Homo sapiens: one gene and its partner. The protein of the gene in region 1 purifies or fractionates together with the protein of each later gene. This does not show direct contact. Each region holds a gene or a part of one and is shown in the gene's direction. Other genes may lie near its edges.

The links. The genes of interacting proteins can lie anywhere in the genome.
Region 2: the proteins of APTX (region 1) and KIF3A purify together in Homo sapiens (affinity purification with mass spectrometry; 2 studies listed by BioGRID and IntAct, with this or other methods). This does not show direct contact.

What each region holds. Positions count from the first base shown.
Region 1 is NC_000009.12:32,983,640-32,992,731, reverse strand, and holds part of APTX (aprataxin), read left to right. Parts: intron 1-2,812; exon of another isoform or gene 2,813-2,836; 5' UTR 2,837-2,840; coding exon 2,841-2,973; intron 2,974-4,602; coding exon 4,603-4,649; intron 4,650-4,885; coding exon 4,886-5,188; intron 5,189-6,701; coding exon 6,702-6,761; intron 6,762-7,874; coding exon 7,875-8,101; intron 8,102-9,092. UniProt on the Homo sapiens protein: DNA-binding protein involved in single-strand DNA break repair, double-strand DNA break repair and base excision repair.
Region 2 is NC_000005.10:132,699,022-132,707,643, reverse strand, and holds part of KIF3A (kinesin-like protein KIF3A), read left to right. Parts: intron 1-1,184; coding exon 1,185-1,193; intron 1,194-4,024; coding exon 4,025-4,181; intron 4,182-4,578; coding exon 4,579-4,759; intron 4,760-4,975; coding exon 4,976-5,086; intron 5,087-5,431; coding exon 5,432-5,557; intron 5,558-6,943; coding exon 6,944-6,997; intron 6,998-7,359; coding exon 7,360-7,428; intron 7,429-8,348; coding exon 8,349-8,473; intron 8,474-8,622. UniProt on the Homo sapiens protein: Microtubule-based anterograde translocator for membranous organelles. Plus end-directed microtubule sliding activity in vitro. Plays a role in primary cilia formation. Plays a role in centriole cohesion and subdistal appendage organization and function.

The sequences.
Region 1 (9,092 bases):
ACACACAGCTGTTAAGTGTTCTTTGGATGCTGTTGTTTTATCTTACTGTGAAGCTCAAAACCTGGCAGTTGTCTCCTCTTGATTATGGTAAATGTAAACTTTTCAGCCTAGTATTCTTTCAACACCTCTGTCTTTTTTTGTGACTCTCCGAGGCAGCTCCTCTGGTTCAGCCAACTAAGTCTGCTTTTACCCCGACCTATGGCTTGCCATTGCCGAAATCTGTGTTGTCACTTGTGCTTTTTAAAATGGAATGGCCCCTCCCACTCCATTTCTTCTTTATCAGTCCCCTTGGCTCCTAGCCATCTCTAACCAGGAGGTTTCTGGAAGCCTGTACTGGCTAATACAGGACTTTTTACCTCCTTAGTACTCATATACTCGCACTAATCTTATTCATTTGAATTTGCATCTCCTCAGCTGTCATTTGCTCACTTTGCCTTGCATTGTCTTGTCTTTGCAGATGGTAATGAAACTGATTTTTAAAAATCGGGTTTCTTTTTTCTTTGCTTATGGACATGAAACTTGTGCAGAGGGCATATGTGCTGCCTTGACTATAGGCAGGTTTCCGGGAGAGGCATGTTAGAGGCTTGAGCACTGATAAGAGTCTGGAGTCTAGAGAGGCAATCTCTCTCTGCCCATAATTCCCTGTTTCACCTCATTGGGTGATCTCATCCTCTCTCTCTTTGCCTCAGCCTCTGTGACATGTTGATGCCTCTCAAATATATGCATTTAGTCCATTCCCCTCTCTTGAGCTTCATACCCACATATCACAGCTTGAGTCTTGGATCTTCCACAGGCAACTTAAAATAATTACATTTCAATATGAAATTGGTCCTTCTCTCTTCACTTTCCTTTTTATCCCCAAATTATGTCTCCTTGTGTATTTTTCATTTTTGTTAATGGGCATCTTCCAAATTTGAAGTCTTTGGTGAGTGTCTCGCCTTTTTTTTTTTTTCTTGAGATGGAGCCTTGCCCTATCGCCCAGGCTGGAATACAATGGTGCGATCTCTGCTCACTGCAACCTCCGCCTCCTGGGTTCAAGCAATTTTCCTGCCTCAGCCTCCCGAGTAGGTGGGAGGCACCTGCCACCACACCTGGCTAATTTTTGTATTTTTAGTAGAGATAGGGTTTTACCACGTTGGCTAGGCTGGTCACAAACTCCTGACCTCGTGATCCGCCTGCCTTGGGCTCCCAAAGTGCTGGGATTACAGGCCTGAGACACCGCACCTGGCCAGTGTGTCCTTTTATTCCTTTGTCATTCCCCAAATGTCATCAGTAATTAAGTATGTCTTCCAGATTTCTCCTGGCTCTTCTTGCTCTCCATCCCCTTTGCTTCGGCCATTGTTGAGGTCTCATCTCTCTTCTGAATTTCTTGTCTCTTTCTCTTTTACTGATAGTCCACATGGCCATAAGGGTTGTTTTTCAAAAGAATATCAGCACTTCCATTGTTTTGCGCGTTGCGTATTGCACAAAATTGTCACATTCACACTTTAGAAATTGTAGGTTTGCGGCCGGGCACGGTGGCTCATGCCTGTAATCCCAGCACTTTGGGAGGCCGAGGCAGGCGGATCACCTGAGGCCAGGAGGTCGAGACCAGACTGACCAACATGGAGAAACCTAGTCTCTACTAAAAATATAAAATTAGCTGACTGTGGTGACACATGCCCATAATCCCAGCTACTCGGGAGGCTGAGGCAGGAGAATCGCTTGAACCCAGGAGGCAGAGGTTGCAGTGAGCCAAGATTGTGCCATTGCACTCCAGCCTGGGCAACAAGAGTGAAGCTCCGTCTCAGAAAAAAAAAAAAGTAAAGAAATTGTAGATTTGCATATTTATTATGACTGTCTCCTGGCAGATGGGAGTGAAATATATTGTTCTAACATCAGTATGTCATGACAGGGAAGGAAAACCTATGACACATAAAGACACCTAAGCACTAGAGAACATCTTTTTTATGTCCTTAGTTCTCTGGCAGGCAAACTCCTTCTCATCCTTTAAAACCGCACATTAATATCCCTTCCTCGTGAAGCCTTTTAAAATATTCTCCACAAGAGTCAGTCAGTCCTTTTACTGGGCTAATGCCATATTTGGTTACTCTCTTCTTGTAGTGTTTATCACATTATATTGTATATATTGGTATATGATTCTGTCTGTCCTACTGCACTCCAGGCTCCTCAAGGACAGGGACAATGTCCCTGTTTTATTCATCCTTTGACTTTCAATATGTAGCCTAATGTCCAGCACATATCAATACATGTGTAACAGGCCAGGTGTGATGGCTTATGCTTGTAATCCCAGCACTTTGGGAGGCAGAGGCGGGTGGATCACCTGAGGTCAGAAGTTTGAGACCAGCCTGGCCAACATGGTGAAACCCTGTCTCCACTAAAAATACAAAAATTAGCCAGGTGTGGTGGCGGGTGCCTGTAATCCCAGCTACTCAGGAGGCTAAGGCAGGAGAATTGCTTGAACCCGGAAGGTGGAGGTTGCCGTGAGCCGAGATTGTGCCACTGCGTGCCAGCCTGGGGGACACAGCGAGACTCTGTCTCAAAATAAATAAAATAAATAAATAAATAAATGTGTAATAAATATTTGATTGCCTAGCATGATTCAGGCAGGGAGGTAAATACTTACTCACATTATCTCATTTAATTTTCACAACAGCCTCCTGAGTCCCATCATTATCATGGTTTATAGGTGAGGAAATTGAGACTAGGGTGGTGAAGTCACTTGCCTCAAGATGAACAGCTGGTAGATCACATGCGTGGTGGCACCGGGTGTGGCCCTGGAGGACTCGTGCTAGTGGATCTGTTTTTCTAGTGATTCTTTTGTTTTGTCCCTTAGAGTGATGATGCGGGTGTGCTGGTTGGTGAGACAGGACAGCCGGCACCAGCGAATCAGACTTCCACATTTGGAAGCAGTTGTGATTGGGCGTGGCCCAGAGACCAAGATCACTGATAAGAAATGTTCTCGACAGCAAGGTAACTGGTCATAGAAATGTGGAGATTACTATGGTTATGTGGGATAGTGATAACCAAAGATGCATATTTTCTGGGTGATCTTGATGGAAAATCTATTGTCTGCCAAAAATACAGCTCAGGAACTGAGCTCTTTTAGCCAACACCAGGGCCCTATTTATTCCTGATTCTGCCCTCCCAATGTGATAATGTTCAAGGCAGGGTGGGTGAAGGTTGGGAGCAGTCAAGTTCATACTGTTACCATGGGATGGTGGAATTGAGTCCTGCCCTCCTTTCCCCAGGGACATTGCTCAATGGGCAGCAAGATGTAAACTCTGGAGTCTACAGGTGAAACCATGTCTTTCTGAGAAGTAATGGGGTAGTGCCGTCCTTTACATATTGCTTCACGCAAAGTATTATGAGACAGTGGCATCTAGCACTTGTCTTAGGGTTTAATAACATGAAAGTCCTTGCCCTCAGAAAAAAATCCTTACCATGTACCTTGTTTTTTCCTGTAAACATGCACACTGCTGGCTGGAGTGTGACCCCCCCACAGCAAGGTTTCCCAAGGGTTCTGAACTTAGAGAGTTGGCATCTGCAGCACTGATTATGATCTTTCCTATATGAGTTAATCTAAGTGGAGGGATACAAAGCCATGCTTGAGCTGAGTAGGCCCAAGATGCAGAAGCAGTGGCTGCTTCTCTCTCTGTTCCCTTCCTCACAACAGCAACTGAAGGGGCATGTATGTGGCACCCTGTCCTCTCTGGGGAGCAGCTATGGTGGTTCTTCTTTCCTCCCTGTCTCAACTCCAGATACCTTGTTCATTTATCAGAACAGGAATGCTTAATGTTACCACTTCTCACACATGCTCAGATTGTTCTGTCTCTGCAATCATCTTTCTAGAACATTCTTTCCACTCCTTCTACCCAAAGCCACCTGAGTTTCTGTTTTCCAGGAATGTGTCTTTTACTGTTTTATCTTTTAAAGCATCTAATAGTTGTTGTTTTTCCAAAATAATAGTGGAAGCCTGATTTAATCCTTGGTCAAGAGTTCGTGTGAGAAATGGATCTTTTTTTTTTTTTTTTTTTTTTTTTTTCCTCCTGAGATAGGGTCTCACTCTGTTGCCCAGGCTGGAGTGTAGTGGTGCGATCTTGACTCACTGCAACCTCCACCTCCTGGGGCTCAAGTGATTCTCCCACCTCAGTCTCCCAAGTAGCTGGGACTACAGGCATGTGCCACCACACCTGGCTAATTTTTGTATTTTTTTGTAGAGACGGGGTATTGCCATGCTGCCCAGGCTGGGAGAAACAGGTCTTCTTTTCTGGCGGCAGAGTCTGTGATCATGAGCAGGCCAGGGGTTCTGGAATAGGGAAACTTGTGGGGATTAATTGAAGCTGCCTCATAGGGATCTTGGCAATAGCTAAGGGAGTATGTACGCTGTTGGACATTTTATGGAAGGATTTAAACCTTTAGAAATTGGTAGGATTTGGAGCTCCAGCCACCTGCAATAACAGGTGATTGCTAATAGGCCTTTAAGGAAACACCACCTGTTCAGCTGCCGCCTGTAGTGAAGCTTGTTTTCTTTAGGGAAGATAGGAGCAAGTGCCTGGTTCTTTGTTGCATTTGTGTTTAACTTTTTCCAATCTCTTTCAGTACAGTTGAAAGCAGAGTGTAACAAGGGATATGTCAAGGTAAAGCAGGTAGGTGTATTTATAACTTGGAATTTTATACTCGATGATTTTCTTATGCTGTTGACTTTAGAGTGTCTGTGCCAGCCAGTGAAGGCTTCTCTGTCATGTATGGAAGTGATGGAGTAATATAGGTGAACATAAGGCAAGGTGCTTGGCATATAGTAAGTGGTTAACATAGCAGTGGCTATCTTACTGTAGGTGCTGTTGCTATTATTATAATTATTTTCTGATTGTTTATTCCATAGGTAGGAGTCAATCCCACCAGCATTGACTCAGTCGTAATTGGGAAGGACCAAGAGGTGAAGCTGCAGCCTGGCCAGGTTCTCCACATGGTGAATGAACTTTATCCATATATTGTAGAGTTTGAGGAAGAGGCAAAGAACCCTGGCCTGGAAACACACAGGAAGAGAAAGAGATCAGGCAACAGTGATTCTATAGAAAGGGATGCTGCTCAGGAAGCTGAGGCTGGGACAGGGCTGGAACCTGGGAGCAACTCTGGCCAATGCTCTGTGCCCCTAAAGAAGGGAAAAGATGCACCTATCAAAAAGGTGAGGGTAGTGTGATTGGTAGATGATGTGGAGAAGAAATGAAATATAATGACTGCTTAATTGTTTTGTACACTTTAAAGTTCAGAAATGCGTGAGGGGTTATTAACCATGATGAAAGAGTCACTTGTTTGTGGCGTGAAAATCATTTGGATGAATGTTCCTTTATGTGCTTTTTTCTTAAATTCCTGAGGTAAGCCACCTGAAGGTACAACAATAATGGCAGTGTGTACTTAACATTGAACAACTAAAGTGGATCAGTTGTTTATGCATCTATAGAAGGTTTTCATAGATCATGTAATTCATATGCTGATGTCAAAGTGGAGAATTGGTCAGGCTGTAGCTGCAGTGAGAGAGGGCAAAGAAGGTATGACTCATACTCTGGCATTTCTCGCCTTCATTTAGAACAGCCAGCTGTGAATATAGGAAGGCTGGCTGGGTGCAGTGGTTCACGCCTGTAATCTCAGCGCTTTGGGAGGCCGAGGTGGGCAGATCACTTGAGGGTCAGGAGTTTGAGACCTGCCTGGCAAACATTGTGAAACTCCATGTCTACTAAAAATACAAAAATTAGCTGGGCCTGGTGGTACACACATGCTTGTAATCCCAGCTACTCGGGAGGCTGAGGCGGGAGGATTGCTTGAACCTGGAAGGCGGAGGTTGCAGTGAGCTGAGATTGCACCACTGCACTCCAGCCTGGGCGACAGAGCGAGACTCCATCTCAAAAAACAACAACAATAATAAAAAACAGCTGGGTGTGCTGGCTCACGCCTGTAATCCCAGCACTTTGGGAGGCCGAGATGGGCAGATCACCTGAGGTCAGGAGTTCGAGACCAGCCTGACCAACATGGCAAAACCTAATCTCTACTAAAAATACAAAATTAGCTGGGCGTGGTGGTGCATGCCTATAATCCCAGCAACTCCAGAGGCTGGGCAGGAGCATCGCTTGAACCCGGGAGGCAGAGGTTGCAGTGAGCCGAGATCACGCCATTGTACTCCAGCCTGGGCAACAAGAGCGAAACCCCATCTCAAAAAAAAAAAGAAAGAATATAGGGTCGGGTGTGGTGGCTCACGCCTGTAATCCCAGCACTTGGGGAGGTGGAGGCCAGTGGATCACCTGAGGTGAGGAGTTCAAGACCAGCATGGCCAACCTGGTGAAACTCCGTCTCTACTAAAAAATACAAAAGTTAGCTGGGCGTGGTGGTGGGCACCTGTAATCCCAGCTACTTGGGAGGCTGAGGCAGGAGAATCACTTCGGAGGTTGCAGTGATCACGCCGCTGCACTCCAGCTTGGGTGAGACAGAGTGAGACTTTGTCTCAAAAAAAAAGAGAATATAGGAAGGCAATGGAGTGAAGCAGAGTCAAGTGAATCTTGTTTAATTCTCAAAAACTAAGCTTATTTCCAAGTTTAGTTGTGCTATCACACAGTATTAACTGTTGCCAAATTTAATTATTGGCATTTGTAATTTACATTGCTTGTTTTTTTTTTTTTTTGTTTTTTTTTTTGTTTTTTTTTTAGGAATCCCTGGGCCACTGGAGTCAAGGCTTGAAGATTTCTATGCAGGACCCCAAAATGCAGGTCAGAATACAATTTTGGAATTTCAGTACATTTCATGTTGTAAATGACCACTCCACAGAGGTCTTAATTACAAATGAAATCAAAGGATATCAGTCTTTCTGAATGAGATTCATTTTATTGGGCTGTTCTGTGAGAACAAGAGGCTTTTCACATTGGCAATAAAGTAGCAGCTGTCATTGTTTGGAGAGAAAGCTGAGTTCTTCAAATGAATATCCCCTCTGCCTTGTGCCTTTTAAACTTCTGGGTACTTTAAGGGAAGTTGCATTAACCTTAGTATGGTTCCTTTCAGGGGAGCATCAGAGATAATACACTGTGACAGTAGTACTGTGCTGCCCTGGCATTAACAGTCAGACATCCCTGTAATCCCAGCACTTTGGGAGGCCGAGACGGGAGGATCACCTGAGGTCAGGAGTTCGAGATCAGCCTGACCAACATGGAGAAACCCTGTCTCTACTAAAAATACAAAAAATTAGCTGGGCATGGTGGTGCATGCCTGTAATCTCAGCTACTCGAGAGGCTGAGGCAGGAGAATCACTTGAATCCGGGAGGTGGAGGTTGCGGTGAGCTGAGATTGCACCATTGTACTCCAGCCTGGGCAACAAGAGCGAAACTCCATCTCAAAAAAAAAAAAAAAAAAAAAAAAACAGGCATCATCCTTGAGGAGCCTTTGAGTCCCACTTCAATTATATTCCTTGTTGACAAGGGGCAGGTCTAATAGGGCTCACTGGAACCCACGTGTACGTGTCACACAGTCTGCCATGTTGGAGTGGAGAAGGATGCTTTTGAATTTATGTCTACAGAGATTTTACATCACATTCTTGGGAACTATTTTGTACTGTGCATCTTCTGTGTATTCTGTGTAGTGTGGTGGTTGAAAACAGACTCTGGAGTCAACCACATCTGAGTTGGAATCCTAGATTTCCCTCTTAGGAACTATGACTTGTGCAAGACACTCAACCTGTCTGAATTTCAGTGCTCTCCTCTCTCAAAACTGGGCTATTAAAACCATTTGCACAAGACTGTGGGAATTAAGTGACTTAGTGAATATAACAACCAGGCACACAGAAGATTCTTAGTAGATGTCTGTTTCCTTCTCTTGTATCCCTCTGCTAGGTTTACAAAGATGAGCAGGTGGTGGTGATAAAGGATAAATACCCAAAGGCCCGTTACCATTGGCTGGTCTTACCGTGGACCTCCATTTCCAGTCTGAAGGCTGTGGCCAGGGAACACCTTGAACTCCTTAAGCATATGCACACTGTGGGGGAAAAGGTGATTGTAGATTTTGCTGGGTCCAGCAAACTCCGCTTCCGATTGGGCTACCACGCCATTCCGAGTATGAGGTAAGCCAGGTGGGTAGTGCTGCTGGCTCCTGGTTCTGTCCAGGTGGGCAGATAGATTCAGCCTGGGCTTGCTGAGGGCACATATTGCACTGAGACCCAGGGAAGTGGGATGGAGTTTTTCCAAAGCAGGTGGGCTGAAGCTTCCACCTCTCTGCCTGACTTGCATGCAAGCTTTGAGTTCCCACTTCTGCCTATAATTCAGTCATATTTGGTTCTTTGTTCCTCTCAAAATATAAATCTTCGAGAGCCTAATATATGAACTAGATGAAGCAGCTTCATTATCCTCAGATAAAGAATTGTGGTCAGTGGCTTTTATCAGATTCTTCAAAAGCGTCTATAACCCCAGAATGATTAAGGACCATTACTCTGAAGGAAACAAACATCATAGACTTCTGTAATGACAGCGTAGTAGATCCAGGATTTGAAAATAAAATGAGAGAAAAGTATAGAATTTGTTTTCCTGTGGCTTATGCCCAGAAGGATTCAGAAAGGAATGACTGATTTCTTTCAAAGAATACAAGCAAGGTGGATCTCCGTGATTTCTTTGATTTAAGCAATAAGATGATAAGTCTAGATTTTAGAGTTTTTATTTTGTTTTTAAAAAACTGTGATATAATATACATAACAAAATTTACATTTTAGTCATCTTTAAGTGTACAATTCATTGGCATTACTATATTCATATTACTATGCAACCATTACTACCATCTATCTCCAGAACTGTTTTCTCTTCCCAAATTGAAACTCTGTACCTTAAATAATAACTCTCCATTTCCCCCTCCCACTCCTGGCAACCACCATTGTACTTTCCTTCCCTGTGAATTTGACTACTCTAGGTACCTCATATTAGAGGAATCATACAAGGACATATTTGTCCTTTTGTGACTGGCTTATTTTACTTATTTACTTACTTATTTTACTTTACATAATGTCTTCAAGTCTTATCCATGTTGTAGCATGTGACAGGATTTTCTCTGCTTATTTTTTTTTA
Region 2 (8,622 bases), on another chromosome or scaffold:
CAAAACAATTCATTTCAAAGGATAATTTGTAAAATACTTGGAATTGCATTAGAAACCACATAGAGGTATTACTTTGTATAATAAACTGTGAAATATGCGAAAATATTTGAGTGGGAGGCGTTGCAATTTAGTTTTCTGTTTTAAAACTTAATTCTTAAAGAGTAGTTATATGAAAGTATGTTATGAAATGAGTTGTACTTTGTTCAATTCAAGAAGTTTTAATTCCTATTTGCGTACCTAGCACATAATTTTTTTCTTGTAATGTGGGCGTGTTGGTGAAGTGGAGAGATGGTTGTCCTAGCATGTGGTTGCTGTGTGTACCTTCCCTTTTAAATATCTCAATGGCCTTTTTAAAAGGTGTTTCTTGCTTGAGTCCTTAATTGGCAGTGACTCCTGTAGAATCATTGTTTATAATTACCCTTAAAAATCTACTAATAGAAGGAATGTAAGTTTGTTACTGTACAGGTATACTTCATTTTATGTAATAATTTTATTTTCTGGAAAAAAAAAAAAGCCCTTAATCCGGTTGGGAAATCGGATGTATTGGGAGAACTTGTGTCTTTAAAAATTCTTCATTAGACCTTTCTGTTAATCAAATAATCAGTGGAAATTACTGTAATCTAATTTATCTGTTGGATTGGTTCAGGTTTTTGTGTTAGATTTTCTTAAAGTGAAGCATGCCTATAATAGATCCATATACTAAAAGAAATATTGAATTGGGACATTTTTGATATGGACAGTGTGAATTTTGTCACTTTAAATGTACTAGTTGTTAAAATTGCCTTAATTTTCTGTTTTGCCCTTTTAGATTACTTCCCAGATCTTAGCAGGTTCCTAATTCCATGTCTTCTGTTAGCATAACCACATGGTGTTGAACTGTGACCTTTGCAGGACTTGGGGAATCAGTGTGAGATCTTGAGATTGACTTGAGTTATAATCTAAGACTAAGTTAACTTTAATATTCTTGCTTAAATGACATCTCTCGTTGTGTTGAATATGCTTTCTTTTTACATGGGCTCTATTTCAGTTTTGATAACGGTTTGATTTTTATTTCTACACTTAAATGAATGCTATTATATATTTTTCTTTGTTTCACAAGAGAAATAATGTTTTCCTTTTTTTCCTCCTCATCTCTGTGCGTATTGCTTCCTGTCTGCGATTTGCTTACTACTTCTTATTGCAAGATCAAGCAGGTTGGTGTGATTGATTTGCACTCCACATGGTACAATTATTTATCCTATAAAGAACTATGTTATTTAAATACATTAAATTTTTAAAATTTAGTAGTTTTTTTACCAGGTAAGTATCTATCTTTTGTATTTTTAACAATCTTTCAACTTTAGCTTTTAAAAAGAACTTCATTTTTTTCCCTAAATTCTTAAAGACTCATTAAGCCAAAGTTTGGAAATACAAGTGTAAATTATTTCACATTCAAACATTTTTCTCCTTTTTTCTTAAAGCCAAGAATCAAATACCTGGTTATGCCGTGGTTGCTTATGTAATAAAAATGAAATTAATTCAATTAGGACTGCCCTGAAGTTCTTCCCCTTTGACTTACCCTGGCCGGTTAACGTTCACAATATTGGTTAGAGCACATGGCAAAGGGCAATAAAAAAATGTTGCTACTTATGTCTGGTTTAGTTAAATACTGTTTATGGCATTAACTTTTAAAAATATTTATTTACCTGAAATTTTGTGCTGAATTTTATCATGCATTGTTAGAAATAGATTTCTTTTTTGTTTGATTGGTTTAAGAAGGTTTTTTTAAAAAAAAGTCCTTTGAAAAATACATATAAAAGTGACTTTTACTGATGTCACATTTTTAAATACCTGGTTAGGAGAGTTAGCACATATTCACATTTAGCTTAAAATATTATTTGTGGAGAAATATAATGATTTGTCAGAGTGATTCTGGCTAAAGTAATATGTTACTTAAATATTAGGCTTTTGAAACTAACCCTGGCTATATATCTTTGATTGTCTTCATGAAAGTGTTACAAGACCACAATAAGATTTTTGCTGCTAAAGTATCAGTTTGGAAACATACCTGAATGGTTTTAAATTACTAATGTAATGCATTAATGCATGAACAGTTATGTGTCTTTGTATTTCCACATGTAAAATCTTTTTATTTAAAAAACTTTTTATTTTACTGCTTCTTAATGGGTTTTGAAACTGTTTTTAACTATTGAAACAATTAGAACCCTTGAAGCCTGTACATACTACTGTTCATATGTTGATTAGATCATTTCCTCTATACTGTTAGCATCAGTGTCTTCATGCATTTATTATTTTTGTCTTAACATATGTCCCATTTTGTCTTTAAATATTTATAATTCTCAGGTGGAAAGGAAGTTACACTTTTTTAAATGCGTATACTTACTATATACCTGAACTGATACTTTTCTCCTTCAAATTTCTAAGACATAGTATGACTGATGGGATAAGTAGTTTGGGAATAGTAGTTAAATTATTTTAAAGTTATTTTTTAACAGCTAATTCAAAAGATTCAATACAGATGACTGTGCCAAACAAGCCAGTAAATAGAATCAGTCTACATCCTGACTTTTGGAATGCAATGAATCACACCACACCAAAGCATGAATTTGGATCAGTGCTTTTATTTACTCTTTTATTTCATTTGTCTTGTGTCTTAGGTTTGCTCTGGACTTACAGTTCTATACAAATAATGTATTTTAAACCCTAGAGTTTTTTACATAATTTTGTCATAAAGAGTTAAAGCCTATTAATGATTCTTCATTTCATAGTTCCTGAAAAAATATACTCAGTTATATATCTCCATCATAATTATTTTTCAGTTCTTTTTCCTTGTTAGGTGGTGGGGGTTAGCTTTTGGGTGGAGACATTAACAATTTATACACTCTTATGATTTACACTCTTCTTCTGTAGTTCTTTGGGAAGGAAGTTAAGAATGACGGAAAGGTTCTAGGAGAGCCTCAGACCAATTCTGTGAAAAGTGTTATTGGTTTTCTGAAGGAATGTATGTTTCTAAGAAACTGTATGACCAGAAATGAATTGTCTTTGATTCAGTTTCATCACCAGTTTAATAAGCTAGTTTTATTTTCTCTTTTTCATTTGGATTTTGTTATTTTGAAATTCATTAATAAACTTTCTTTGAGCACCTATTACATGTATGTAAAATACTTTATTAGACATTATTAGCAAAAATAATCAATTGGAAGCCATATTCCAGCTTTATTATTTGGTAGTATTTCTACTTATATTTGACACTTGGCATGTTTACTCTGACTTAGGGAGCCTTCGGGTCCTGAGTTTGACATAATAACAAGCTATTTTAGTTGTTCCTTTAGTGTATGATGATATATCTTGACAGCTCAGCAACTGTGAAATGCTTGGTTAATTACTGTGTATGTAACTGTTACATAATTACATAGTATAGAATTTTTTCCTTTAAAAGTATGCTGTGAAATAAAATACTTTAATGTTATTAAACAAAAATTTTAGAAAAACTCTGAAAAATATATTAAAACTACTTGATGTAAATTCTGCCTGATATTTTCATCTGTGCATTTTATACCTATATATGACTTTTATTCACTTGTTTTATGTGAACTTGGGGAAGATATTTTAAGGAGTCGCTTGATTTTATACTTGGTTATCAGGAAAAAGTAACTGAAGAATCATGTTGCTTTTTTTTTAACCTATATTTGTTATCTGGGGACATATATATTTTTTAATTTGGCTTTCCTGTTAATCTTTCTTTTCCTATTATTTAGCTCATCTATTTTGCTTCTCTTTCGCTTTTGTTCTTAGTTATCATTGTACAATTGGACAACAGTTTGAATTTAGCAATGAGTTATAAAGTTCTAGGAGCATAATAAATGGAAATGCATGATATTATTGGTTTGATTTCCTTAAAATATTGATAATTGGTTTTGTATTATTGAGGAGTGTAGGCATTTCTATATTGAAGGAGGTAATTTATATAAGTCTGAAACATTGATTCATTTTAGTGATTGTTGCAATTAAATGATTCAAATAGGAAAAAAGAAAGTCTCCCCAGACAAGATGATTGAAATGCAAGCAAAAATTGATGAGGAGAGAAAAGCACTTGAAACAAAGCTCGACATGGAAGAAGAAGAAAGAAACAAGGCTAGAGCTGAATTAGAGAAACGGGAAAAAGATCTTCTTAAAGCCCAGTGAGTATTATTGAATTGAGATGAATTCATGATTTAAATTTCTGTTTTTTCCTAGGATATATAAAATAGGAAAATTGAATAGTAATTAAAAGCTTGGATTTTTGTCTCCAGTGTAGCTATTTTGGATAGAAGGGTCCATTGTATATAGTGTATTTCTAAAAACTAGATCTATTTTGGTTATTTTATTTCCGTGTGATAGGAAAACATATCAATGAATTAGAATGAGTTATAAATTAAGTTAGAAATCGATACTACACAGTGGTGTAATTTGGCAGAGATGTTACATAATTATATTTCTATTTTGAAATTGTATATCCAAATTTTAAATTTTGGGAAATGATATTAGTAGAATAATAGATCATCAGTGAATATAGAGTATTCTCATTCTAATCAACAGACAAGAGCATCAGTCTTTGCTGGAAAAATTATCTGCCCTGGAAAAGAAGGTAATTGTTGGTGGGGTTGACTTGTTGGCCAAAGCTGAGGAACAAGAGAAACTTCTTGAAGAATCTAACATGGAACTGGAAGAAAGGAGGAAAAGAGCAGAGCAACTTCGCAGAGAACTTGAGGAAAAAGAGGTAATGTGACTTTCTGTTTTTAGTTTGGTATTTTGCCAGAGAGATTTAACTTTTCTAGTGGAAAGCTAAATATCTATAATCGTATTGAAATTTTAAAGCATATTTATGGATTGCTTTGAAGATCAGATTTGCTAAACATTTATGTCATTTGTTAAAGAATTAGATATTTGATTTTACAAAGAAATTTATTCTGAAGTTTACTAATTTTTGTCATAGCAAGAACGCTTGGATATTGAAGAAAAATATACCAGTTTGCAAGAGGAAGCACAGGGAAAGACCAAGAAGTTAAAGAAAGTTTGGACTATGCTGATGGCTGCAAAGTCAGAGGTTGGTTCTCTTAGAAATTACCTACTAATGCAGTTCTGGATTTTTTAAAAGGGAGTTCTTTGATTAAGAATTTATAAATAATCATAATGTGAGCTTATAATTTAAAAGAAATAAAATATTTCTTTATGTGCAATTTTTAATTTTATCTATTAGTCTAAATTGTTTCTTTTCAACCTTAACAAATAGTGTAGAATAGATGCTGATAGTGTCACGCTGTTTATCATTTTTATAAAAGAACTAGGTAAGCTCTCACAAGGTTTCTTAGACAAGCATCCTATGTGAGATGGTGCTGTTTTGTAGTTAAAGTCTTGTTTGTTCATAATATTTTTATGGATTTTCTGGTAGATGGCTGATCTCCAACAAGAACATCAGAGGGAAATTGAAGGCCTACTGGAGAACATTCGGCAACTTAGCCGGGAGCTTCGACTTCAGATGCTTATTATTGATAACTTTATACCTCGGGATTATCAGGTAAAAAGGAAGTTCTCTGACCGAGATAGTCGCTTGACTGGGATTAAGGAACAAAGATTTCTAATTTAACTGATGATAAATACTTAATACTTCAGTTATTGAATGTACAATTTTTTGAACAAATGCCATCACATTTCACTTTAGTTGTTAACTTTTAATACATAATCTCTGTTTGAGTATCTAGCCTTTTAGACGAACTCAGATTCATGTATATGTGATCAGAATCAAGGTGTAGGTCCCATTCCTTCATTCAGCGCCCATTATCATACAAGTAGAATAAATGGAACCTCTGTGCTGCCTTTTTCTCCCTGCTGTGGGTGCTGATTCTTTGTGTGTGTGTGTGTATATGGTAAAATATAGATAACATGAAATTTACCATCTTAGCTATTTTAAGTGTGCAGTTCAATGGCATTTAGGACATTCACATTGTTGTGCAACCTGTACCATCATTCATCTCCAGATGGATGCTAATTCTTAGTACTAGTATAATTTTAAAATCTCAGCCTCTATTTTTTTTAATCCAAAATTTGTCTTTCCAGTGCATTTTGGTAAACTTTAACATGATTTTTTTTTTTTTTTTTTTTGTCAGGGAGACAGAGTCACTTTGTTGCCCAGGCTGGAGTGCAGTGGTGCAATCTCGGCTCCCTGCAACCTTCACTTCCCGGGTTCAAGTGATTCTCATGCCTCTGCCTCCCGAGTAGCTGGGATTACAGGCGTGTACCACCACACCCAGCTAATTTTTGTATATTTAGTAGAGATGGGGTTTAGCCATGTTGGCCAGGCTGGTCTTGAGTTCCTGAGCTCAGGTTGATCTGCCCGTTTTGGCCTCCCAAAATGATGGGATTACAGGTGTTAACCACCATGCCTGGCCAATTTTTTAAAAATCTGTTTTGAATCTCAATACAGTTTTAAGAAATTTGTCTGAAAATAAGTCTTAGTCATTTTTTTTTTTTTTGGACCTCAGGTACATGGAATTAGTCCTGGGTTCATGGTACATTCTCCTTATTGGTCCTTGGATGGCCTGCTTTTATTTAGTTATTTTGTAATGAACTCATCACCCAAAACAATATCTAGGACCCTGATAATAACTACTTCTAACCAGTTTCCCCTTCCCTTATTTCATTCCTTTGCCTCTTCCAACCCAAGGTAATCATTATCTTGATTCCCAAGTTTCTCATTCTGTTGTTTTTTCATTTTCATTTAGTTTTATTTCATCTGCATGCATTCCTAAGAAATATGTATTTTAGAATTTATAAAAAGGTTATATCAGTATATAATGTTTTGAGACTTTTATTACTCAATGTTATTAAGATTTTAGTTTTATGACTTCAATATTTTAGATGTTATTAAATATTAAAAATAGGCTATCTTTCACCCTTTTAAAAGGAAATGATTGAAAACTATGTCCATTGGAATGAAGACATAGGAGAATGGCAGCTAGTGAGTATTACCTTCATTCTTTCACGTAATAATTAAAGAGTACTTCCTATGGTCTAGAAATTGTGCTGGCTACAGTGGGGAGGAACATGGTCCAGTAGATGAATCAGATGAGAATCCAGTAGGGCAGATAAAATATTTTTCTAATTCCATGTAATTAATTGTAACATACAGATCATGGTCTGGGTGGAAATGGTCAGAGTTAGGGGCTATGTGGGACTAAGTGACCTCTGGGGCCCTTTCTGCTCTAGCATTCAAATCATGTTTTACTAGTGTAATGTTAGGATTTCTCAGTTATTTGCCTAACTCACAGTATTGATTACTAATTAAGACATTTCTCTGTCTCTCCCTTTTCTTTTTTTGAGAAATGTGTTGCTTATACAGGAAATAACATGAGGAAGCAAACCCCAGTACCTGATAAAAAGGAGAAAGATGTAAGAGTACTTAAAAAAAAACAAAACAAAACACAAAACTACTGTTGTTTCTTTATAGGAATATGAGTCATTAAATTGTATTATCAACTTGATATCTGTTAATCAGCTCTGCTGAAAAATGGGCTGATACTTTTGGGAATAAAGGCTCTAGGATGGGGTGATGAGGAGGACAGTTCTGCTTACCATCAGTCTTGATGTCAGGCTTATTCCCACCACAAGAGGGGCATGGACTCACTCTTTGGAGTCCTCTTTTCACTACCACTCTGGGTCGTAGGATTATGGGTGGAGACTAGAATGTGTCTTTCTTTCTCTTCAAAGCTAGTTCTAGTCCTAGGTCAAGAAGAAGAGGGAGCGGGCCGGGCGTGGTGGCTCACGCCTGTAATCCCAGCACTTTGGGAGGCCGAGGCGGGTGGATCACGAGGTCAGGAGATCAAGACCATCCTGGCTAACACAGTGAAACCCCGTCTCTACTAAAAAAATACAAAAAAAATTAGCCGGGCGTGGTGGCGGGTGCCTGTAGTCCCAGCTACTCAGGAGGCTGAGGCAGGAGAATGGCGTGAACCCAGGAGGTGGAGCTTGCAGTGAGCCCAGATCGCGCTACTGCACTCCAGCCTGGGCGACAGAGTGAGACTCCGTCTCAAAAAAAAAAAAAAAAGAAGAAGAAGAGGGGGCAGCTTTAAGAAAAACAGCAACAGTTTTTATGTCCAAGGAAATTTATAGTGTGTCAGGGCTTCTTACTCACCAACCTTTATTAAGTACATTTTAGATACTGGGATTAGAAGATGATGTCATTAGACATTTCTTTGGTTTTAGCTTCTGTGGGTTTGATCAAGGAGTTTATTCAGTATTTTAAATCTTCCCCCAAATCTGGCTTTAACTCTTTGCCTTAAGAGTGCTTTGTGTTTGTTTCTTTTACTTAGCCCTTTGAGGTGGACCTTTCTCACGTGTATCTTGCCTATACTGAGGAGAGTCTGCGTCAGTCTTTGATGAAACTAGAAAGACCACGAACTTCAAAGGGGAAAGCAAGGCCAAAGACAGGGAGAAGGTAAGGACTGTCCTTGAATCTGGTAAAACGAAGGCATTGAGGTATTCTAATTAGATACATGTACAGGAAGTTAAAATTTATTTAGTTAAAACATGATACATATTTTGGCTGATTTATTAAAAATCAAATTCCTGGCTGGGCACAGTGGC